2 separate regions of the Homo sapiens genome follow, and region 1 is linked to region 2. A link means that fine-mapping ties the variant in region 2 to the expression of a gene that starts in the linked region. Tissue or cell type: breast. Region 2 holds a variant in brackets; the other region holds the start of a gene. All regions are shown on one strand. Distances are between the middles of the regions.

The links. PIP is the estimated chance that this variant, and not a neighbour inherited with it, causes the effect.
Region 1: it holds the start of TRABD, and the variant in region 2 is fine-mapped to the expression of TRABD in breast (GTEx, PIP 0.96).

What each region holds. Positions count from the first base shown.
Region 1 is chr22:50,182,415-50,192,430 of GRCh38, reverse strand. It overlaps TRABD (TraB domain containing), which reads right to left and starts at 6,518. Exons shown (of 10, transcript NM_001320485.2): 1 at 6,455-6,518. RefSeq lists silencers at 4,780-4,829, 5,770-6,079, 6,346-6,715, 6,986-7,085, 7,276-7,345 and 1 more and enhancers at 1,502-1,861, 1,547-2,161, 2,162-2,776, 2,992-3,051, 3,062-3,111 and 4 more.
Region 2 is chr22:50,210,615-50,225,366 of GRCh38, reverse strand. SELENOO (selenoprotein O) reads right to left here. Exons shown (of 9, transcript NM_031454.2): 5 at 14,456-14,736; 6 at 9,500-9,650; 7 at 8,491-8,676; 8 at 8,239-8,395; 9 at 7,751-8,162. The coding sequence ends at 7,998. It overlaps TUBGCP6 (tubulin gamma complex component 6), which reads left to right. Exons shown (of 25, transcript NM_020461.4): 11 at 775-856; 12 at 947-1,035; 13 at 1,111-1,226; 14 at 2,775-2,913; 15 at 3,265-3,339; 16 at 3,493-5,116; 17 at 5,352-5,410; 18 at 5,576-5,723; 19 at 5,911-6,079; 20 at 6,158-6,299; 21 at 6,470-6,664; 22 at 6,747-6,879; 23 at 6,965-7,178; 24 at 7,250-7,449; 1 more. The coding sequence ends at 7,631. Among named protein-coding and RNA genes, the nearest start is that of SELENOO-AS1, 7.8 kb to the right of the region's middle. RefSeq lists an enhancer at 5,130-5,772. The variant T/G (reference allele first, on the strand shown) is at 7,687.

The sequences.
Region 1 (10,016 bases), 31 kb after region 2:
GGCAGCCACACGAGGGGGCTGCCCCGAGGCATCACAGCTCCCCACAGACTCTCAGAAACCAGGAGCTCAGGCCGGGGGCCCAGGAGCCTGAGGGAAGGAAGAAAACAGCCAGGCGCCTGCAGCACCAGAGGCACGCACCGGCCAAGACCCACAGAGCATCGGCGAGACCTGCGCGGAGCCCCTCGAGGCGGGGCCAGGGACCAGCAGGCTGTCCTGAGACTGGCCACAGGCCCTGCTGCACCATGTGGCTCTTCCTGAATGTTCTCAGCCACGGAATGCCAGGAGTGACTGTTTACCAAGTTAATGGCTCATGCATGTCCTGGCGGATGGATGTGTCACCAGGCAGAATCATTAAAATATCCCAAACAGGCCAGGCGCGGTGGCTCACACCTGTAATCCCAGCACTTTGGGGGGCCAAGGTGGATGGACTGCCTGAGCTCAGGAGTTCGAGACCAGCCTGGCCAACATAGACCATCCTGGTGAAACCCCATCTCTACCAAAAATACACAAATTAGCCAGGCGTGGTGGTGCACACCCGTAATCCCAGCTACTGGGGAGGCTGAGGCAGGAGAATCACTTTGAACCCGAGAGGCTGAGGTTGCAGTGAGCCGAGATCCTGTCACTGCACTCCAACCTGGGTGACAGAGGGAGACTCTGTCTCAAGAAAAAAACAAAAGTAAAAAATAAAAATGAGCCGTTGGAAACCATTCTGAGCTGTCTAGTCGTGCAAGGTATTGTGGTTTTGTCTTGAAGCGTCTGCGTCAGTCAGACACGAGCATCTGGCGAGGAAACGACGGGGCTTGTAGGATGTGCTTCAGAGGGGCCACTGCCGGGTTCTGCACTGATGCCTGCGTGCATCTGGGGTCATTTTCATGTCACTACTGCTGCCCACTTCTCAGAACTCATAAGAAAAAGGAACAATGAGCAATAAGACGCTATGTCAGGTTCCTTTCCTCTGCAAACCCTGTTGGCACACAGCCACAGCAGGCACAGACCTCGGCCCCAGCCAGGACTCACAGACCCAGCTGGGTCCTGGCCACCCACATCCAAGTTAAGATGCCTCCAAGCTTGGGTGTCCTAACCTGTGAACAGGAAGGAGCTCTCTGTGCAGTGTCTAGGAGGGCAGCTCAGGGGCTGGGGGAGCAGGGACGGCTCTGAGCAGGGGAAGAGGCCTGTCTCAGTGCAACCAGAGGCCCCATCTGAAGCTGGCCGAGAAGAGGGCAGCCCACCCTGCCCTCTTCTTGGACAGCCGGGACTTCTGGGAGAGGAACTGGCCTGGCTTGGGGTGGGTGGTGCAATGGGGCCATGGTCGGGGGAGGTCAGCTGAGACTAAGGAGACAGCTGATAAACACCAGGCTCATGTCCCCGGGGGCCTTGAGCCTCTGCAGAGGGCAAGGGGGGCCCGCTCCACAGGCAGGCTCCCCTATGGGGCCTCACAGCCTTGGCAGGGGGTCCCACTCCTTGCCACCTGGGCTTGAGTCTGGACCCAACCCTGGCCTGGGCGTCTTAGCGGTTGGCACATCCAGGAAGTGCAGCTGGCACCGGTCACAGCAGGACCAGGCCCCGGACCCTTGGGCCGCCTCCTTCCCCTTTTGTAGGTGAAAGCTCCACGATGCAACCCGACCGGAACCCACCGGAAGCTGTTGTGAGCAGCCGCCAGGCCAGCCAGCCCAGACAAGCACCCGGTCCGGGAGACGGCCGCCTCCCTGGGTCTAGCTACACACACAAGCCAGAACTCTTAGGAGCAGCGCAAGACTGCCGGGGCGCACGGGGGAAACTCACACACGGAAGTCCGGACCATTAGAGCAGCGCAAGGCTGCCGAGGCACACCGGGGAAACTCCTTAAAGAAACTCCTGTGCAGCCGGGCGGGAGGCTGCGTCGGCCCAGCCAACAGGAGGCGCCCACGTCGCCACAGCCCTTCCCCCATGGGTGTGGCAGCCCCAGGTCTGCGGTCAGCCCCCACCCTCCACCCAGCCTGGCCAGACCCGCCTCTGAGGCCGGCCTAGGGTACGCCTGTGGCCATGGACAGGGCAGGGTCTCGGTGCAGCAGCAGGCGCTGGTCCTGACCCCAGTCGTGCCATGGGGTGGGCGTGCACAGGTCTCCTGTCAGGGAGGGCAGAGAAGCTTTCCTGGGCCGGCTGCCAAGCCTTGAGCAGGACGATGTCAGCGCCACCAGAGGCAGTGCCAGCCCCCAGCCCTGGCCCCTGCAGCCTCTCAGCAGAGGCGTGCTGCCCGCAGGGAGCCAGGCGGGAAGGTCACTGAGGACCCCCCAGCACCTAAAGCCCGTGATTCTGGGGGACGTCTCTGACAGTCACTCTTACAGTCTCAACACTCTCTTTCCCTCCTCGCCAAGGCCCCTGGAGAGCTCTAGGGTGTGATTTCAGGTTACCAGCCCTCCTCCCTCTAGTCTGCTCCCAGGCAGCTGTGCTCTCAGACATTTATGGCTGGGCCCAGAGCCTCTCCCAGCTGCCTGGCGGTGAGCAAAAGGCCCTGGCCCAAAAGCCACAGATGCTGAGCCTGGACTCTGAAGTGTCTTCAGAGACAATGTCTGAAGAACCCCCACCTGGTTCCCAGCCCCACAACCTCTGGGTCCCAGCAGAGCATCACCTGGGGTCCGGCCAGCACACACTGCAGCCACCCCCTCTGGGTCCCAGCAGAGCATCACCTGGGGTCCGGCCAGCACACACTGCAGCCACCCCCTCTGGGTCCCAGCAGAGCATCACCTGGGGTCCGGCCAGCGCACGCTGCAGCCACCCCCTTTCTACCTGTCCTTTTCAGATACGCTCAGGCCCATCAGCAGAGACCAGCAGACCCTGGCTGCCCCTCCGGGGGGACAGACATCTCTCCTTCCCAAATCCCCAGTGCTGGCACTGCCCCAGGGAACCTCGCAGTGGCTTCTGGCCTTGTTACCTGCAAGGCCAACCCGCTGGGAAGCGGTGCAGCCTGGCAGGAAGCCAGACGCTTGTATCAGACCAGCTGTGCTTCACTCTCCCTGCCCCGCACGGACGTCCACCGAGCAGGACTGGGGTGGGTGCTGAACACGATTTGTGGGACATGCCTCCTGAGCATGGGTAGCCGGCAGACAGGGTCCTCAGATCTCAGACCCCAGTGCTACCCTGGGCAGGATGCTCTGGGCAGGAGCCGCCGTTTAAGGCGGGAACCTGCCTCCAGGGCCAGCATCCCACCTGCCCCACACAGGAGGCCCTCTCTGGGCTGCAAGCACAAGCCACATTCAGATGCTGCTTTAGCGGTCAGCCTCGGCCTCGAGCTTCTCTGCCGCAGCACAGTCTGTCCCGAAGGCAGAGAACGGGGTGGAGACCCACAGGGCAAGAAAAGACTTAGCAGCCCGATTTCAGGAGACCCTAGACACTGCCTCTGAAGACACTTGTTCTCCAAGCACTGTCCCTCATCTGTAAAAAGGGATATCTGGCTTTGGAAACCATGATCCTCTGTGCAGACGAAGCCTCTGAGAATTCCCAACAGCCCCAGGAGGACATCTGTTGTGCGCAAAAGCCCATCCGTTAGGGCTCTGCCTGAGGTGTGCGGCCCTAGGACACAAAATCAGAGCGGCATCTACAGTCCTTTGGCGTCAGAGACGGCTGTCTGCATCCGAAATGTCCCGCAGGGCTTCTGTCCCAGGACCTGACATCCAGTGGGAGCCTCAGACAGCGCATCCCACCTGCCTGCTCAGGTCCCACTGCTACAGACTGAACTGTGTCCCCCAAAACCCACAGGTTAGAGCCCTAACTCCCACTATGAAGGTATTAGAAGGCAGGGCCTCCAGGAGGTGATCAGGTTCGGATGAGGTCATGAGTGCATAGCCCCCATGACGGGGTTAGTACTCCTGGAAGAGACGCCACGCAGCTCTTGCTCCCCCGGGTAAGGACGCCGCGGGGGCCCGTCTACAAGCCAGGAGGCTGCATGGCAACCAGGGACCAGCACCTTTGATCTGGGATGTCCGGCCCCTAGAACTCTGAGAAAATAAATTTCTGTTAAGTTTTTTCCCAGCACCAGTGAGGCATGGTGGGAGGAGCCTACTCGCTCACAGCCCCAGCTACTCAGGAGAGGCTGAGGTAGGAGAATTGTCTGAGGTCTGGAGTTTAAGACCAGTCTGGGCAACTTAGCGAGACCTCATTTTTTTTTTATTTGAGACGGAGTGTCACTCTGTCGCCCAGGCTGGAGTGCGGTGGCGTGATCTTGGCTCACTGCAACCTCCCCCACCCTGAGGTCCAAGCGATTCTCCTGCCTCAGCCTCCCGAGTAGCTGGGATTACAGGCGTGCGCCACCACCCCCAGCTAATTTTTGTATTTTTAGTAGAGATGGGGTTTCACCATCTTGGCCAGGCTGGTGTTGAACTCCTGACCTTGTGATCCACCTGCCTCGGCCTCCCAAAGTGCTGGGGTTACAGGTGTGAGCCACTGCGCCAGGCCAAGACCTCATTTTTGTTTTTGAGACAGAGTCACACTCTGTTGCCCACGCTGGAGTGCAGTGGCATGATCTCGGCTCACTGCAAGCTCTGCCTCCCGGGTTCACGCCATTCTCCTGCCTCAGCCTCCCGAGTAGCTGGGACTACAGGCGCCTGCCACTACACCCAGCTAATTTTTTGTATTTTTTAGTAGAGACGGGGTTTCACCGTGTTAGCCAGGAAGGTCTCCATCTCCTGACCTCGTGATCTGCCCGCCTCGGCCTCCCAAAGTGCTGGGATTACAGGCGTGAACCACCACACCCAGCCCAGCCTGCTGTTTTTTAAAGTTTCCTGGTCTGTGATGCTTTGTTACAGCAGCTAGAGCTAAGACACCCATCTTATCCCCTTCACCCCACTAGAAACTGCCTCCCAGACTGCAGCCTAGCTTCCTAGTGCAGACCAAAAACTGGCTAGCACCAAATGCAGTTACCAGAAAAACCCCCATCTCTCAACCAACCCACTAGACCGGCTCAGAAAGCCCAGGTTCCAAACTGGTCAGACCTGGGGGTTGCAGAAATGACAAACTTGGAGGGACCAGGGTGTGGCCCAGAGCTTTGACCTCCCCTGCTTCCTGTTTCTGATGCCTGGCACCTTTGGCCACAGGAAACCCCTCCCGGCTTTGGCGGGACCGCTTCACGCAGGTGTGGCAGAGCTGGGAGACGGGAAACACACCTGAGCCAGAGCCCGAGGCCTCCTTGCCAGCACACCTGGCAGCCCCCAACCTCCCAGGACCTGGTCACAGTCAATGCAGAGCCCCCACACTGACCACCATGCAGGGGGCCCCACAGGCTCCTGCCACCCACCCACCCTGCCAGGCCCCCTCCTCGGACCCCACAGCATCAGGGCCTCCGGCGAGGCTGGCCAGCATCCCCACCAGTCACACTGCAAGGGCGGCGGCAGCAAGCGGGGAGCAGAGACACACAGCGCAGTGAGCCTGGCGGCCTGCACGGCCTCTTCAGGGACCTGAAAGCTAGGAGGCTTCCATCTGGAGGCTACCGAGGCTGCGGGAGTCCCCGCAGGGAGCTTAGCACCTCCACAAGTTCCTGGTTGTTTCTGGGACGCTAGTGCCCAGACAGCTCCCACTCCATCTTTCTTGTAAGAGTTTTGACAAAGACACACGGCAGCTTCATGATAGCTCAGTTAAAAAGACCTTTTAAGTTTGGGCTGCGCACAGCGGGGGACGATCTGGCGTCCACTTCGCCCATATGGGAACCCCGCTCTGCTCCAATTGAAGGGCAAAGGCACCTACAGAAGAGCGAAGCCCCAGGTTTCAGCGGGGCCGGAGGGGACAACGGGGGTCCGGGGCCTCCCGCTCGGCCTCCCCCAGCACCCCCAGAGACCCGCAGGCCTGGGCCGCCTTCCTCCACTCTCACCTCGGCCGGCTCCACCGCAGGCGGCAGGCGGGGGTGGCTGGGGCCCTCCCGACCCGCGAGGACCCTGGGACTCGAGGTCCGACCCGCGCCTTCCCGCGAGGCCGCCGCTGACCCTCCCCGCCCCAGCCCTGGGGGGCTCCGCTCCTCGGCAGCGCCGCTCCCGGCAGCGGTGGCAGGGGACGCGCGGGGCCTGCTCCCGCCCCAAACCTGACCCGGGCCTGACCCCCACGACCTGCTCCCCCGGCTCCAAAACCTGACCCGGGCCTGGCCCCCCCAACGACCTGCCACCCCGGCCCCCAAACCTGACCCGGGCCCGGCCCCCAACGACCCTGGTCTACCAGCCCCAAACCCTGAATCTGACCCTGGCCTGACCCCCACGACCTGCTCCCCCGGCCCCAAAACCTGAACCTGATCCGGGCCTGACCCCCACGACCTGCTACCCCGGCCCCAAAACCTGACCCGGGCCTGACCCCCCCCGCCCCCGGCCCCCACCCCCCGACTCGGGCTCGCTCCCCCCGCCCCCCACAGTCACCCCGCGGCCCTGACCCGGGCCCGCCCCCCGCTCGGTGCTGGGCCCCGTCCTCACGCACGCGCCGTCCGCGCCGCGCGGCGTACCGAGGCGAGGCAGCGGCGCTCCTCAGCCGGCCTCCATGCGGCGCGGGCCCTCAACGGACGGGGCGGGCTGGGGCCGCGGGGCGGGGCGGGGCGGACGGGCCGAGGGCGCCGGCGGCCGCGTGGCATGCCGGGAAGTGTAGTCCCACGCGCCTCCTGCTTGGCCCCGGCCCGCAACTTCGGACTACACTTCCCAGGGGGTAGCGCGCGGGGCCCCCGCCCCCCCCCCCCCCCCCGGCGCTCCCGGGTCCTAAGGAACATCGGCGCGCACTCAGGAGGGAGGGTTCGAGTCCCGCCGCGGTCACGGCCTTGCGAGGCGCGCCCACGTTCTCTGGTCGCAGCTCCCAAGCTGTGAAATGGGGACAATGCTCGCACGGCGTCCACAGGATGGTTTTCAGTCGAATGATATTGAAATGTAACTGTTCTGTGAGCCGTCAGTCCCGCACGAAAGGGACAGCCGATAGTGGGACGCGAGGAGCCGAGAACACGGGATCAGGGAACGCGCTGCCATGGCCTCGGCCTGGCCCCCTTCCCTCTGGGGATCGGCCTAGTCCGTCCTCCGGGGGTCGGCCCAGAGCGGTCCCCGACCCGGGACTCATGCCTCAGCGGGACCTCGGCCTTGCCGCAGGTTGGGGCACCCCGGGAAGGTCGGGCCCCAGGGGCCCCGCGGCCAGCCTAGCGGACGGAGAACCGGGACCAGGTGGGAGTCTTAGGGCGGGCCGACCCCCGGCCTCACGGACCCGGACGCTCAGTCACTTCCGATCGTCCGGAGGCCTCCAGGGGGACCCGGCTGGCCGCAGCCACGCCGACGCTAGACTCTCGCTGTGCGTGTTCGGCCCCGAGGGCAGGGGGAGACGGCCAGGCCCCACCCGCCGCGCCCGTCCTGCCCGGGCGCCCGGCCCCCTCGCTGTACCCAGCCTCTACCGGGGCGGCCGGGACCCGGCGGCCAAGTTGCTGCGCGCTGCGGGCACCGGCGCGGACGGGGGCCCGGGCGCTTCGCCGCCGCATGCAGACGACTCGCTGCCCGCAAGCTGCTGCGCCGTCCGCCTGCCCCGCTCTCCTGCAATGGTCCGGCCGCGCATCCCGGGCCCACGACTTCCTTCCTCCTCCACGACCCCGGGTTCTTGGCTGACCTGGCGCTGGCGCTGGGCTTAGTGCAGGCGTGGGCCTGGCAATGGTTTGCCTGCGGGCTGCATGCGCGGACCCCACAGCCAGCTCCCCGAAGCTCTGCGCCCACCTCTACGGCCCTGCCCCAGCCAAAGGATCAGGTTCTTGGAGCGGGGCCTGCCCTGGGGCCAGGACTCCAGTCACCGGGGGAGGGCTGCTGTGTCTTCCTGCCAGGCACTGATGAGTTAGTTGGGGAAAGGGGCCAGGTGGGGCCAGCTGGGGAACCATTTAGAAGAGGGAGGAGGGCGCACCTCTCTACTCGAGTGCCCTAGGACTAGCTCCTCTCTGGAGCCACGGGGAGGACCTCAGTGAGGGCTGCCCCACGCAGGAACCTTCAGCGAGCCTGGAAGGCTGACCCAGCAGGCCTGGGGTTGGGGGAGTCCAACGCAGCGCCCAGGCTTGGTCTGGGTCTGCCTGAGGCCGTCCACCAGGACTCCGTGCTGGGGAGCCTGCTTCCTTCCAGGCTCCAGGAAGGGAGGCCCCGGCCCCAGCCCCAGGTTCTGAGGAGCTGCCCCGGCTCGGGTGGCCTGCAGGGGTCCCCTCAGGTCCCTGGTCCTGAGTCTGCAGGTGGTCCTCCCGGGGTGGGGCGGATGGGTGAAAATGCCTGTCCACACGGCAGCAGGCTGGGCTGGCTGCCCACTGAGCATTCTTACACAAGAGGCCCCGCCCCCTCCTACAGCTTCCTGGTCCCCAAATGGCCAGGCCTGGCCTTAGAGAGGCCTCTGTCCTCCTTGGTGAAGGACACTCACTTTGGGCCCTAGGGCCTCTGGTTCACATCCTCTCCATTGATTCTCATTGTTCGCTGCCTTTGTGGTCATTCTGCCTTTCCGACCATCTCGGCCACATCCTCACAGGAGGGCAGCGGGTGGCAGTCGCCCCGGCTCCACCTCACCCATTTCTCAGTGCTGGGCTGGTGTGGAGGGAAGATCCCTGGCCTGGGGGCTGGAGGCCTGGGTTCTCAGTCTTGGCCATCTGGGATGGGTGCAAGGTCCTCCTGGAGCCCCTCCTTCTCCATGAGAGGGACGGTTCTATCCACCTGCCAGGCCTGCTTATGCTCAGGGAGGGGGAGGGGCAGGAGGGGGCACTATTTCAAACCAACGCTGGCCCCCGGGCTGCAGAACGACCCTCTGACTCACCTGGGCAAGGTGGCCAGTTGGGGAGGGGAGAGTGTCCGAGATCCCAGCCCCCGGTGGGCAGCAGACAGTGGAGAAGCAGAACTGCCCTCCGATCCGGCTGGGGTCCCCTGCAGGGCTGCACTAGGCTGTGAGGGGCGAGAAGCAGAAAAGGGGGAGATTGAGTCCTCAGGGAGCGTGCTGGGGAAACTGAGGCAGGACCTCAGCCGCAGGCCCTGGGCCACCACCCACATCTCAGGCTGGGCTTGTCTTCTAAAGTTCTGCTCCCAAGCCTGCTTTTCTCTGGGCAGGCTCTGTCCCTTCTGCCGTGGGGGGCAGGCGGGGTTGCCTTGGGAAGAGGGTCAGGTGGAGGTGGAGGACGTGCACCTGGGGTGCCAGAGCTTTTGAGGCCCTGACGCCGGGGGGCTGGCCATGTGGATGCCCTGTTCCTGGAGCAGCCAGAGGAGGGTTTCTGGAGGTGCCCTGGGGGGAGTGAGGAGGAGTCCTAGGGAGGGTGGGGGCTCTCAGGAACAGAAACAAACTGTGTGAAGCCATTTGTGCTGGGAGGGACCGTCTTGGTCCCCGGCTGGCTTTGTCCTCAAGGGGTGGACCTTGAGGAAGGGCCAAGTCCCATTCGGAGCAGAGTGACAGATCCCACAGAAGCAGGCGTTGGGGCAAGGGGAGGGAGGGAGCCCTATGGGGGAAGGCGGTTGGGGCCGGTTCAGCCCTGACCCAGTGCCAAGGGTGAGCGCCACCCTTTCAGGCCTCTGCCCGCCTGCCTCTAGGAACGTGGCACAGCTGGCAAGGACACAGCCAGAGGAACAGGTCTGGGGATAAGGTGGTGATGTTACCTGGGAGAGGTGGGAGCCAGCGTCTCACTGTAGGACGGACACCAGCTCCCCAGCACGGGCCGCGCAGAGGGAGGGCCAGCTCCAGCACAGGGCAGGGTGCTCACTTGAGGCATGAACCTCTTTCCAGACAGGAGTTGGTTTCATACCTCCTGCCAGGCTGAGGCGCACAGGCGGGGGATGGGCAGTGTGGCTGCTGCCCATGGCCCTGGTCACATTGAAGTCTCCAGGTGGCTCCACCTGAGGCCTCCTGTGTCCCCCGGCTCAGCTCAAGCCCCACCTCGGCCTAGACGTTTTCTGGGCAGCGACAGCTCCTCTCACAAGCTGGGAGGCAGGGCCTGCGGGACTCAGCACCACGCAGACCGGCTGCCCCCAAGGACTACTGGACGTCTCCCTACCTGAGCCGAGCCATGCGGGATGCCGGGTGGCTGCTGGGGC
Region 2 (14,752 bases):
TGTCAGGGACGGGCCACGCCTCTCCTGTGTCTTCTGGGAGGGGCTCGGTGGTACAATCAGTGCCATTCCCAGGAACACCCTTTCTGGCCTGGTGCCTGGTGGGCAGCAGGGATACTTGGGCAGGGGCAGGCCTAAGAGGCTGAGCGGGGAAGCCCCCTCTTGAGGCCTCTTGGTTTCCTTCCAGGGTGGGCACACACAGCCTTGGGGTCCTCAGCCCCAGATGTCTCTGTGAGAGCCGGTCAGCTCCCGTCCATGGCCTGGAACCAGCCTTGCCACTGCTGAGAGCCTGGGGGTGGGGGAGGGTGGGCGGGGGGGCGGTGTCCTGCCATCACCTGGTCCCTCCTCGAACCCTTGGACCATGTGTCTCCCCTGCCGGCCCTGAGTCCACAGGTGTCCTGGGCATCCTAGGTGAGGGGTCAGAGGATTAGGTTGCTTTTTTTTTCTTTGAGACAGGGTCTCACTGTGTCAGCCAGGAGGCTGGAGTGCAGCGGCTCGAACATGGCTCACTGCAGCCTCCACCTCCCAGGCTCAAGGGATCCTCCTGCCTAAGCTCCCCTGACCCCCGCCAAATAGTTGATACTACAGGCACCTGCCACTACACCTGGCTAATTTTTGTATTTTTAGTAGGGATGGGTTTTTGCTATGTTGTCCAGGCTGGTCTTGAACTCTTAAGCTCATGTGATCTACCCACCTCGGCCTCCCAAAGTGCCAGGATTACAGGCGTGAGCCACTGCGCCCGGCCAGGATGCTTTGATTACCAGTTGTCTTTCTCAGGAATTACGTATGGAAATTGCAAAACAAGAATTAATCGCTCATGCCCGGGAAGCAGCATCCAGGGTCCTGAGTGCACTGAGTGGTGAGTGGCCCCAAGTCCTCCCTTCTGCAGTTCCGGGGGGCCTTGCTGGGGCCTCCTTGTGACAGTGCGCCCCTTACTGTCCCAATGTAGACCGGCAGATGTCAGAACGGATGGCCTTGGATGCCCGGAAGCGTGAGCAGTTTCAGAGGCTGAAAGAACAATTTGTGAAGGACCAGGAGGTGGGTAGGACCTGTCCCTGCGGGGTCACGCCTGTCAGTTCTGATTTCACAGGCCAGGCTCTATGTGTTTTATAGCGACGCCAGGCGGCCAGGCAGGAGGAGCTGGATGATGACTTCAGCTACGCCCGTGAACTCCGAGACAGGGAGAGAAGGCTGAAGTCCCTGGAGGAGGAGCTGGAGAGGAAGGCGAGGTAGGGCAGCCCGGGCTCCAGGCCCAGGGGTGCAGTGCGGCAGGGGCCCCATAGCTCTGGCTTAATCTTACTGATGATTTTACTTTTTGTTTTGAAAACCTTCAAACATACATTAAGGTAGAAAGACCAATATGCTGAACCCAGAGTGGCTGTGGGCGTTCTGCCTTATCCAGGCATCCTTAGCTGTTCTGCGCGTTGTCTTGTGGTGGTTTGTATGGATTAGGGTCCAGGCGAGGCCTGCGTACTGTTTGGGGTCCTGTCTCTTTATTTATCTTCTTTCTGAACATCCTTCCTTATTTATTTTTAAGTCTGTTATTGGTCTGACAGAGACAGGGCGTTTTTTTTTTTTTTTTTTTTTTTGGAAACAGAGTCTTGCTCTGTCACCCAGGCTGGAGTGCAGTGGCACAATCTCGGCTCACTGTAACCTCCGCCTCCCAGGTTCAAGCAATTCTCCTGCCTCAGCCTCCTGAGTAGCTGGGGTTACAGGCATCCGCCACCACATCCAGCTAGTTTTTTGTATTTTTAGTACAGACGGGGTTTAACCATGTTGGCCAGGCTGGTCTCAAACTCCTGACCTCAGGTGATCCACCTGCCTCGGCCTCCCAAAGTGCTGGGATTACAGGCGCGAGCCACCGCGCTCGGCTGAGACAGGGCATTTGTCCAGCACAGCATCTGCGTCTGTCTCCCTGTGCTGTTATCAACCTGTCCTGTGCTGTCATCAGGCTGTCCCAGGCTGAGTAGTGCTGGATCCTTCAAGGGGCTGTTTGGGGTTTTGGAGAGAGCCCCTCACGGGAGGGGCTGGCCGCTTCCTGCTCAGCCCCACGCGATGCTGTAGGTCCCAACCTTAGATCTCTTTATGGAGCGAGTGAGGGATGTGTGTGGAGGGGTGCGCGTGCCTGTGTGCACGTGTGTCCGTGTATGCATTTATGCATGAGTACGTGTTCATGCATGTATGTCAGTCGATACTGTCCTGTTAACACATGGAGAAAACCAGGCCTAGACACTACGTCTCTGGCCTGTGGCAGCCAAATTAGAGCTGGCCAGTCCAGGTTTGAGCCCAGTTGCCTGCTGGTGAGAAGCTCAAAATCATGGGGCACGATCGGTGAAGCAGGCTTTGAATTCAGCAAATAAAGCGTTTGTGTTGGTTTTGCTTCATGTGCTTTTTTGCATTAGTTTTCAGTTCTCAGGTTTGTACCTGTAGAAGGGGAAGAGGCCTAACTTCTTAGAGGCCTGGGGCCCTCGGCCTCCTGCTCACCCCTTGCTTCAGGCCACACAGGATCTCATTCTGGTATTTGTCCAGCAGATGTTGCTGAGCCCTGGCTGGACGCTGACTCACCAGGGTCTCCCAGCCTGGCAGGTAGAAGGGCCTGCCTGGTGCTGCCCTGTAGGTGCTGTGAGGGCCCAGAGCTATCAGCCCCTGGTAGGGGGAGACGGGGGCGGGGGCCCACTGGGGCCTCTGTTATGGAGAACCATCCTGGCCTGAGGGGTGCCAGGTAGATGGGGTGGGGTGACTCTTGTGGCCGTGTCCTCTCTGGTGTGTGGCTTCAGGCAGGCACTGGTCGACCACTACAGCAAGCTCTCTGCAGAGGCAGCTCGTCGGGAGCAGAAGGCACTGTGGAGAATCCAGAGGCACCGACTGGAGAGTGCACGGCTTCGTTTTCTCTTAGAAGATGAGAAACACATTCAGGTATGTCTGCGGCTTCAGATGGCAGCTCTTCCCCTGGGCTTTGGGGGTCTGGAAACCCCCTGAGACTGCACACAAACCTACATGCTCTTCTAGGAGAGGGCTGGTGGCTTTCGCGTTTGCGGCAGAGCACTCTCTCTCCCCGTGTGCCACCAAATTGCACAGATACAGGTGGTGAGGAGCTCGTGGTTTTGGAGTACTTTTTGCAGGCCCAGCGTCCCACTGGAGCCCAGCACAAGCCTTGTCTGGTTCAGTGCACATGGCTGCCATGGGCGGTAGGGGCTGTGGCTTTGTGTGGGGTAGGGCTGTGCTTGACTCCGGCTTGGCCAGTCACCCCTCTGGCTTGAATTTCAGGAGATGCTGAAAGCAGTGTCTGAGGCTCACCAGCCCCAGGAGCCGCCAGACGTCCTCTTGAGCGTGCACCCCCAGGTAAGCGGCAGAGTGGAACCCAGGGTGCCCTATGGTTTTCCCATAGCCCTCGGCACCTGGTGTTGGTCATGGCTGCAGAGCTGAACTTGGGGGACAGTTCGAGGGCTGGGGGGTCCTGAGACCAGACTGGGTCTGATGTCACCTGTGTTTCAGGTCACGTCTCCGGGCCCTGAGCACCCAGAGGGAGGCCAAGGCTGTGATTCTGGGTCTGCAGAGCAACACTCGCCTGCCTGGGATGGCTGGAACAGGCCAGGCCTGCTGACCCCACAGCCCCTTAAGCCTCTAGCAGTGGGGGCTGGTGGCAGGGGGCTGCAGCAGGCGGAGGGGGCCAGACCCTTCTCTGACAGCCTCAGCATTGGAGACTTCCTACCTGTGGGCCCAGGGGCTGAGCCGTCCGTGCAGACTGGCATGGTCCCTCTCCTGGAGGTGGCGCTGCAGACCATTAACTTGGACCTGCCCCCCTCAGCTCCTGGGGAGGCACCCGCAGCAGCCAGCACTCAGCCCTCCAGGCCACAGGAGTACGACTTTAGTACTGTCCTGAGGCCAGCTGTGGCCACCTCACCTGCACCAGGGCCCCTGCAGGCTGCAGAGTGCAGCTTGGGCAGCTCAGGGCTACAGCTGTGGGAGGACAGTTGTGGGAAGATGGATGCCTGTGGCTCCGCCTCGCGGGAGACTCTGCTCCCCTCACACCCACCCAGGCGTGCTGCTCTGGAGGAGGGGAGCAGCCAGCCCACAGAGCGGCTCTTTGGGCAGGTGTCAGGGGGTGGTCTTCCCACAGGGGACTACGCTTCTGAAATAGCTCCCACCCGGCCACGGTGGAACACCCACGGGCACGTGTCTGACGCCAGCATCAGGGTCGGGGAGAATGTGTCAGATGTGGCTCCCACCCAGCCACGGTGGAACACCCACGGACACGTATCCAATGCCAGCATCAGCTTAGGGGAGTCTGTGTCAGATGTGGCTCCCACTCGGCCACGGTGGAACATCCATGGACATGTGTCCAACGCCAGCATCAGGGTCGGGGAGAATGTGTCAGATGTGGCTCCCACCAGGCCACGGTGGAATACCCACGGGCACGTGTCCAACGCCAGCATCAGGGTTGGGGAGAACGTGTCGGACGTGGCTCCCACCCGGCCACGGTGGAACACCCATGGACACGTGTCCGATGCCAGCATCAGCTTGGGGGAGTCTGTGTCAGACATGGCTCCCGCCCGGCCACGGTGGAACACCCATGGACACGTGTCTGATGCCAGCATCAGCTTGGGGGAGTCTGTGTCAGACATGGCTCCCACCCGGCCACGGTGGAACACCCACGGACATGTGTCTGACACCAGCATCAGGGTTGGGGAGAACGTATCGGACGTGGCTCCCATCCGGTCACGGTGCAACACCCATGGACACGTGTCCGACGCCAGCATCAGCTTGGGGGAGCCTGTGTCGGATGTGGTTTCCACCCGGCCACGGTGGAACACCCATGTACCCATCCCTCCGCCCCACATGGTGCTGGGGGCTCTCTCACCAGAAGCTGAGCCCAACACACCCAGGCCCCAACAGAGCCCCCCTGGCCACACGTCCCAGTCAGCGCTCAGCCTGGGAGCACAGAGCACTGTGCTGGACTGTGGGCCACGGCTGCCTGTAGAAGTGGGGCCATCTCTGTCCTCCCCCAGCTCGGGCTGCGGGGAGGGGAGCATCAGCGTGGGGGAGAACGTGTCAGACGTGGCTCCCACCCAACCATGGTGGCCCAACACCCCGGGAGACAGTGTCTCTGAAGAACTAGGTCAGAGTAGGGTGGCTGGTGGTCAGGAGTGGGACTGTGGGACGCACAGAGCCTGGGAGGTAGGCGGGCAGTGGGGTTGGTGGCATGTGAAGTTCCCCTCAGGCCTCCTTGTCAGCCAGGACCTGGGCTGCTGTGGGGGACATGGGAGGGGCTGCTTGAGCCAGGGCCGGCTCGGCTCTGTACCCGCCACAGGCACTCGGCCCTGATGCCCTCGTGTCCACTTGTGTCCACACAGGCCCTGGGAGGAGCGGGGACACTGAGGACCTCTCTCCAAATTGGCCTCTCAACTCACAGGTTAGGTGGATGCAGCCTGGGGGTCCCACAGCAGGCAGGGAGGGCTCTGTCCCTCTAGGTTGTCACGCGGGTGGGTCCCACATGCGATTTTCCTTTTTTTGGCACAAGCTGGTTGTGGGGACAGCGTGCAGTGGGGAGGTGGTTCTGAGGCTGGTGTTTTGTTAGGAAGACACAGCTGCCCAGAGCAGCCCAGGCCGTGGTGAGGAGGCGGAGGCATCGGCGGCGGAGGCTCAGGGTGGGGAGCAGGCCTACCTGGCAGGCCTGGCAGGGCAGTACCACTTGGAGCGGTACCCGGACAGTTACGAGTCCATGTGTGAGTGCAGCAGTTGCTGTTGGCAGGGAGCCCTGGGCTGGCTGGTTCCCAGCACGTGCTCCACCTCCTGTGGGTTGGGGCGGAGCCCTGGGCTAGCCAGTTCCCAGCACGTGCTCCATCTCCTGTGGATGGGGGCGGAGCCCTGGGCTGGCCGGTTCCCAGCACGTGCGTGCTCCATCTCCCGCAGCCGAGCCGCCCATTGCTCATCTTTTGCGCCCCGTGCTTCCCCGGGCCTTCGCCTTCCCCGTGGACCCCCAGGTCCAGTCTGCCGCTGATGAGACTGCTGTGCAGCTGAGCGAGTTGCTGACGCTGCCCGTGCTCATGAAGCGCTCCATCACGGCACCGCTGGCCGCCCAGTGAGTGCCCCTGCCCCTGCGCCAGTCTGCCCACCCAGCCCGTCCTGGCCCGCCCTGACTCCAGCTCCCTCCTGCCAGCATCTCCTTGGTGAACAAGGCCGCTGTCGACTACTTCTTCGTGGAGCTGCACCTGGAGGCGCACTATGAGGCACTGCGGCACTTCCTGCTGATGGAGGACGGCGAGTTCGCCCAGTCCCTCAGCGACCTGCTCTTTGAGAAGGTGGCCTCCGGACACGGGGTGGGGCCAGTGGTAGAGGGGAGGCCGTGGGAAAAGAGAGACTGGCTGCACGCCCACAGCCCCCTGCTGCTCTGGCACAGCCCCATGGGGTGCCGGCGAGTGCCAGGCATGTGCTTGGGACTCCTGGGGACGGTGGTCCCTTTTCTGCCTAGCTTGGAGCTGGGCAAACGCCCGGAGAGCTGCTCAACCCGCTGGTGCTGAACTCTGTGCTGAGCAAGGCCCTGCAGTGCAGCCTGCATGGGGACACCCCGCACGCCTCCAACCTCTCCCTCGCTCTCAAGTACCTGCCCGAGGTGTTTGCCCCCAACGCCCCGGATGTGCTGAGCTGCCTGGAGCTCAGGTACAAGGTCAGCAGCAGCCCTGGCCGCGGGGGATGGGACAGGGGCCTGCCTGCCTGTGGGATGCCTGCTGAGCCACGCCTCCTGGCAGGTGGACTGGCCTCTCAACATTGTCATCACCGAGGGCTGCGTGAGCAAGTACAGCGGCGTCTTCTCCTTCCTGCTGCAGCTGAAGCTCATGATGTGGGCGCTCAAGGACGTCTGCTTCCACCTCAAGCGCACAGGTGAGGCCCCGCTGGAGCCCGGCGCCCCGCACCCCTGGCTGGAGGCTGCGCTCACCTCTGCCCTCTGCCTTCTGCCCTCCGCCAGCCCTGCTGAGCCACATGGCCGGCTCTGTGCAGTTCCGTCAGCTGCAGCTGTTCAAGCACGAGATGCAGCATTTCGTGAAGGTCATCCAGGGCTACATCGCCAACCAGATCCTGCACGTCACCTGGTGCGAGTTCAGGGCCAGGTTGGCCACCGTGGGCGACCTGGAGGAGATCCAGCGTGCGCACGCAGAGTACCTGCACAAGGCCGTCTTCAGGTGAGGCCTGGGCAGCGGCTGCGTCCCTGTGGTCACGGCTCAGCCCACCCAGCAGCACTGCTTCCCCCCAGGGGCCTGCTCACGGAGAAGGCGGCGCCCGTCATGAACGTCATCCACAGCATCTTCAGCCTCGTGCTCAAGTTCCGCAGCCAGCTCATCTCCCAGGCCTGGGGGCCCCCTGGGGGCCCGCGGGGTGCAGAGCACCCCAACTTTGCACTCATGCAGCAGTCCTACAACACCTTCAAGTACTACTCCCACTTTCTCTTCAAAGGTGAGGCCCACCCTGGCTGGGAGGGCTGCGGGGGGGCCAGGGCGGGGCTCACACTGTGGGCAAAAGCCTGAGCTGCTCGCTGGTCCCCAGTGGTGACCAAGCTGGTGAACCGCGGCTACCAGCCCCACCTGGAGGACTTTCTGCTGCGCATCAACTTCAACAACTACTACCAGGACGCCTGAGGCTGCTCTGCGGGGGACGTGCACAATAAAGGTGTTCTCGGACCCTGTCTGCAGC[T/G]CTCTCTCCTGGGTGGGGGCTGAGGACAGGGCAGGGTGGGGGAACAATGACCACAGAGACAGACTCGAGGGAGTTGCTGGTTTATTTAGGAGCCTGGGTCCAGCCCCCAGGGACCAGGCTGCACTGCTGAGCCGGCCTCAGACAGAGACGGGTCAGGTCCTGACTGGATGTCTCTGCCATCATGGAAAGACGGGTGTGCATGGGCCAGGGCAGAATCCCCCAGTGTATAGGGCAGCCTGGCATCATCTTGGCCACTCAGCAGCACATGGGGGCCTCGGGAGACTCCAGGGGTGTGGAGCGTGCCGAGGCCGTTACGAAGATCATGTCACGCACAGTTCTGCTGCCCAGAGCGGGGGCTTACTGCTGTAGGAGCGCTGCCTGCCGTCCGCCCCGTCGGCTTCCGTGGCCTCGGCGTCTGTGGCGGCCCCCGCCTCGCAGTGGTAAGGGGTCTCCAGTAGTTTCAGCACCCGCCGCACCTGGAGGATCAGGAGGGTGAGAGGGGTCTGGGGCCGACCCCCCTCCCAGGGACCACAGGGACAGGCGTGTGCTTGCCTCTGAGAAGTCCCCGCGCTCGGCAGCCTCGATGGCATTCTGCGCGATGTAGTTCCTCAGCACGTACTTCGGGTTGTTGGCGTGCATCACGCGCACGTGCTCAGCCTGCCAGGCGGCAGCGTCCCCAGCGCCTTCCAGGTCCTTGTCCAGCCGGGCTCTGGAATGACATCCGGGCTCTGGAGTCACAGCCGGGCTGGACTTTTTCCAGCACGCGACCCGCCGTCCCCCGGTGACCATGGACGCAGGGCTCACCTGTACGCCTGTAGCCAGTCAGCCCAGTGGCCCTGGTTCCTGCTCTGCAGCTCTGCCGCACTCAGCTGCTCCAGCCGAGACTGCTGCTCCACACGCTCCAGCTCCCTGGCGATGCCTGCCCGGGTGCCCATAAGCGCGAACAGCTGCGGGTTTGACTGCGCCAGCATCAGCATCATGGATAGCTGCCTGTGGAGAGGCCAGGGTGTCTGGGAGGTAGCCCCTGACCGTGTCCCTGCCCTGCAGGCAGCTGCTCCGCCTGCCCCAGCCCGCTCTCACGGCTCACCTAGAGTCCAAGGGCCCAAGCAGCCCGGTCCCCGAGGTCCCTGGAACCCCACTGGCAGGGATGGACCCCAGTGGGCACACACCAGGCATGCCCATGCTCGGCCAAGGCCCTTTGTGGGCCGAGGGGCAGGACCACTCTGCTGCCCAGCTTTCTGCTGGAGAGTCTCCACCTCCCGAGTTTAATGCTTGTGGGATGGGCACTGCTGTTAGCACTTCCCTCATTTCCAGAAGGGTCCAGGTGGGCAGGGGCCACGCCTTCTCCAGTGGAGGGGGTTTATGCTCAGCAGGGCCTGCTGGCCGGTGCTCCCAGCCAACCCCACTGGTCTTGTTTTTTAAGTTAAAGCAACAATATTTTCCACGTCTCATCCTGCACGTGGGCGGGACTCTTCAGACAGGGCAGCCCTTCCCTTTGGAAGATGGTGTGGGAAAGCTTGACCTCTGGGAGCCCATTCTCCCTAGAAACCCAGAGGCTTTCTCTGAAGCCCACCCACAGCAGAGACCACTGTCTGCCCCCACACCTGTGTCAGCCTCGCCACTCTCTACTCTGTGACCAACCGGCCCCAGCATCGCAGAGATGCCCTGAAGCCCTGACTGAATCTGTCCCTGGGAGCGGAGCAGCCACCTGGGCCCCAGCCAGCTCTGTCTCTAGCTTCTCCCCCAGCCTCTGTTTCTGATTATGCTTCCTTTTCTGGAAACAAATCCAAAGAAGTAGGAACTGAGTACCCACCGGGGATCCATCTGGGGCCGGAAGGCCAGCCTCAGCTCCTCCAGGGAGGCACACTGCTCCATCAGCCTGGCCAGGAATTCCGCCAGGCCTGGCGACTCTAGCTCCACTGGGAAGGAGCTCAGCAAGTAGAAGGTGTTTGTGAAGTCGGCACCTGGAACACAGGCTGCTCAGGGAGCTGGAAGCAGAAGGCCCAGGGTCCCTGTCCTGGTGCCACACAGACCCCCCCCCCCCCACCCCCCTGGCACAGGTGCTGCATGGACCCACCCACATGCTCCACCACCGCCCCCCACCGCCAGCACGGATCCACACGCTCCCTGACCCACACCCTCCACCTGGCACAGTGCCATACAGACCCACACCCTCCCCCAGCACAGGTGCCACACGGACCCACACCTGGCACGCATGCCACAGAGACCCACACGGACCCAAATGCTGCCCCCAGCACAGGTGCCACACAAGCCCCGCTCAGCATTGGTCCTGGGACTCCTGAGCCCTCCACACCCCACTCCTCAGCCTCCACCCATCCACCGCCCAGGCAGCTGCCATTTGCTCACCCTCCAAGTCACCTGTGAAGTGGCCTAATACTGAGAAGGCAGAGGCTGCTGCCCGGCCCTCACATCCTCACAGTCACAACTGCCTGCTTTGGGAGCTAGCGAGTGTTGAGAAGCTGCTGTAACCCGCCTGCAAAAGGCCCAACTTGTGACAGACACTGCGATCCTCCCCCTGACTCTGGAAAACACTGTCTGAAACCACAGTGACCCTAAGACTGTCTTAAAAACAAAATGAGAAGGGAGTCAAAGCAACGTACTGCAAAAAAGTCGACTACACACAAAGGTAGCAAGGGAGAACGTGAGCGACCAGAAACATGGCAGAAGCTCCCCCTCAGTAACTGCTTTGAAAGCGAATGGACTGATCGCTCCAACAAAAGGCAGATTGGCAAAGTGGGTGAAAAGACGATTTCCATGTTGTCACCACACGATCTGCAAGACGTTCAAAGACACGAACAGGCTGGAAGTGAAAGGATGAAGAAACCCAGGCAAAGAGTAACCTAAAGAGAGCTGAGGCGACTCTTAAACTCACAGCAGATAAGTTTTCTATTTTTTGAGACGGAGTCTTGCTCTGTTGCCGGGGCTGGAGTGCAGTGGCGCAATCTCGGCTCACTGCAACCTCCGCCTCCTGGGTTCCAGCAATTCTCCTACCTCAGCCTCCCGAGTAGCTGGGATTACAGGCATCCGCCACCATGCCTGGCTAATTTTTGTTTTTTGAGATGGAGTCTTGCTCTTGTTGCCTAGGCTGGAGTGCAGTGGCGTGATCTCAGCTCACTGCAACCTCCGCCTCTCCTGCCTCAGTCTCCTGAGTAGCTGAGATTACAGGCACCCACCACCATGCCTGGCTAATCTTTGTATTTTTAGTAGAGATGGAGTTTCACCATGTTGGCCAAACTGGTCTCGAACTCTTGACCTCAGGTGATCTGCCTGCCTCGGCCTCCCAAAGTGTTGGGATTACAGGCATGAGCCACCATGCCCGGCCAGAGAAGATTTTAAATAAAAAATTGTCAGAAGGGCCGGGAAAGGTGCTCACCCCTGTAATCCCAGCTACTTGGTAGGCTGAGGCAGGAGGATAACTAGAGCACAAGAAGTGGAGGCTGCAGTGAGCCGCAGCTGTGCCACTGCACTCCAGCCTGGGCAACAAAGTGAGACACATCCACCCTCAACAAAAAGTCGTTACAAGAGACAGCATTATATATGGATAAAAGAGTCAATTCATCAATAAAAATGTAAAAATTATAAACATGCACCCAATAAGAAAGCCCAAAAATGTAAACGTTGGCAGAATGGAAGGGACAGACAACAAACAGTTCTATCTATAGTAAGAGTTGGAGACTTAAACACACCACTTAATAATGGATAGACCATCTAGGGTTGGGAGCGGTGGCTCATGCCTGTAATCCCAGCACTTTGGGAGGCCGAGGCAGGTGGATCACGAGGTCAGGCGATCAAGACCATCCTGGCTAACACGGTGAAACCCCGTCTCTACTAAAAATACAAAAAAATTACCCGGGCGTGGTGGCAGGCGCCTGTAGTCCCAGCTACTCGGGAGGCTGAGGCAGGAAAATGCCGTGAACCTGGGAGGTGGAGCTTGCAGTGAGCTGAGATCGCGCCACTGCACTCCAGCCTGGGTGACAGAGCAAGACTCCGTCTCAAAAAACAAAAAAACCATCCAGACAGAAGATCAATGAGAAATGGAAGACCTGAACAACAGCCTAAACCAACAAGACCAAACAGGCACATACACGGAACCCTCCACCCAGCAGAAGAGAGCACACCGTCTTCTCCAGGGCACACGGGTACAGGACGCTCTGCCCAGCAAAAGAGAGCACACCGTCTTCTCCAGGGCACACAGAAAGTTCTCCAAGATAAGCCACAAAACAAGTTGTAATAAACCTCAAAAGGCTGACATCTCTAGTCACAATGGAATGAAGCTAGAAATCACTTAAAAACACAACACACTGGCTGGGCGCGGCGGCTCATCCCCAGAATCCCAGCACTTTGGGAGGCTGAGGCAGATCACTTGCGATCAGGTGTTGGAGACCAGCCTGGCCAACATGGTGAAGCCCCATCTCTCCTAACAGTACAAAAATTAGCTAGGTGTGGTGGAGCATGCCAGTAGTCCCAGCTACTTGGGAGTCTGAAGGAGGAGAACCACTTGAGCCTGGGAGGCGGAGGTTGCAGTGAGCCAAGATCATGCCACTGCACTCCAGCTTGGGCGACAGAGTAAGACTCCGTCTAAAAACCAAAAAAACCCACAACATACCAAAATTGATGGACACAGCAAAAGCAGTGACCAGAAAGACATGCACAGTGTAAATGGCTACACTGAAGAAGATCTCCAATCAGTTACCTCAACTCACGCCTAAGGAACTGGAGAAAGAAGAGCCAAGATTAGAGGGAGACAATAGACTGAAGAAACAGGCACACGCTGCGTAACTCCACTTACACGAAGATTAGAGGGAGACAATAGACTGAAGAAACAGGCACACGCTGCGTAACTCCACTTAAACGAAGATTAGAGGGAGACAACAGACTGAAGAAACAGGCGCACGCTGCGTAACTCCACTTACACGAAGATTAGAGGGAGACAACAGACTGAAGAAACAGGCACACGCTGTGTAACTCCACTTACATGAAGGGTTTAGAGCAGTCAGGTTCACAGACTCGGAGCGGAGTGGTTGCTACCAGGGGCTGCAGGGAGGGGAATGGGGAGCTGGTAACCGGCTCACACAGGGTTTGGGTGGCGGATGTGAACAAGCTCCAGGGCTCGGCTGTACAGCACTGCTCCTGCGTCAGCTGTGATGTGCGGTGCCCTCCACAATTTAAGAGGATAGATCCATGTTGTGTTCCTACCACAATGAAATTGTAAAAAACTGCTACGAACAATTATATGCCAAAATTACCTACAAGACATGGACAAACTACCTGACACAGAAAATTCCTGGAAACATAAATTACCAAAACTGACTCAAGAAGAAAAGAAAATCTAAATTGAGGTAAGGCAAGCAAGGAGACTGATCAGTAATCAAAATTTTTCCAACAAAGAAAAGCCCAGGACCAGATGGCTTCACTGGTGATTTCTACCAAATACTCTTACGAACAAATGGCAATCCTTCTCAAACTTTGAAGGAAAAAAATGGAAGATGTGCGCATACCTCCTAACTCACTCTGAGGCCAGCACCACCTTGACATCAAAGCCAAACAGACACTAAAGAAAAAGCAGAACTCTAAGCTAGTATCCCTTACGCATACAGATGCAAAAATCCTCAAAATACTCGCAACATTCAGCATATTAAAATAATTATACAGCATATGGCTGGGTGCGGTGGCTCACGCCTATAATCCCAGTACTTTGGGCGGCTGAGGTGGGCAGATCACCTGAGGTCGGGAGTTCAAGACCAGCCTGACCAACACGGCGAAACCCTGTCTCTACTAAAAATACAAAATTAGCCGGGTGTGGTGGCGGGTGCCTGTAATCCCAGCTACTTGAGAGACTGAGGCAGGAGAATCACTTGAACCCAGGAGGTGGAGGTTGCAGTGAGCCAAGATCGTGCCACTGCACTCCAGCCTGGGCAACAAGAGTGAAACTCCGTCTCAAAAAATATTAAAAATAATAATCATATAGCATATTAAAAGGACCAAGTAAAATTTATCCCCAGAATGCAAGGAGATATGAATGAAATAATAAAACCACATGACCATCTTCATTGCAGGAAAAAGCATTTGATAAAATGCAATAGCTTTTCATGGTAAAAGCATTCTGAAAGAAAACTTCAGCATGGTAAAAGCCCACAGCTAACATCACACTCAATGGGTGAAACACTGAACACTTTTCCCCGAAGGTCAGGAACAAGAAAAGAATGCCCATCTCAGCTCCTTCTGTTCAACATACACGTCCTAGCTAGTGCAACCCAGTGAGTCACCCACACGACCCAGCAATCCTACCACCTGTACACCCCACGGAACTGAAAGCAGGGAGTCAGAGATCTCTGCATTCGCTTTCATGGCAGCACGGCACACAACACACAGTGCACCGTACGCAACAGCCAGAAGAGGAACACGTACGCCAGTATGTCGTGGATAAGCAAACTGCGGCCTGTCCACACAACGGGATGCTTCTCAGCCTTCAAATGGAATAAAATCCTGATACGGACCTGGGTGAACATTGAGGACCTTATGCTAAGTGAAATAAGCAGTCACTACAGAACAAGCACCGTATGACTCCACTCGCAGCAGGTCCTAGATTCACCAAATTCATAAAGACAGAGAGTAGAATGGGGGTGCCAGGGCTGGGGTGGGCCCAGGGAGTGACTGTGCACTTGGAACCTGGAAGCCAGAAGGTAAACCATCTCTAAGCACAACAGCACGGGAGGCGCCTTGCTGTGGGCACGGCTGGGTCACTCACCGGTCAGATGCATGGTCTCCAGGAGCTTGGACACCAGCGCCCCGTCTTCCTCCAGCTCCACCTGCACGAGGCCCAGCTTCCTGCGCATCTTCTGCAGGTAGTGCCTTTGGAACTCGGCGTCAAACTCCTCGGCCAGGATGGCCTCCCCCAGCTCCAGGGGCAGTTCCGGCTGCAGGGCCTCGGCCAGCTTCCGCAGGTTCCACCTGCACACCTCGGGCTGCTTGCTGTACGCGTAGCGGCCGGTGTTGTCGGAGGCATTGCACACGTGGTCGGGGTCGTACCTGCCACACGGGGCAA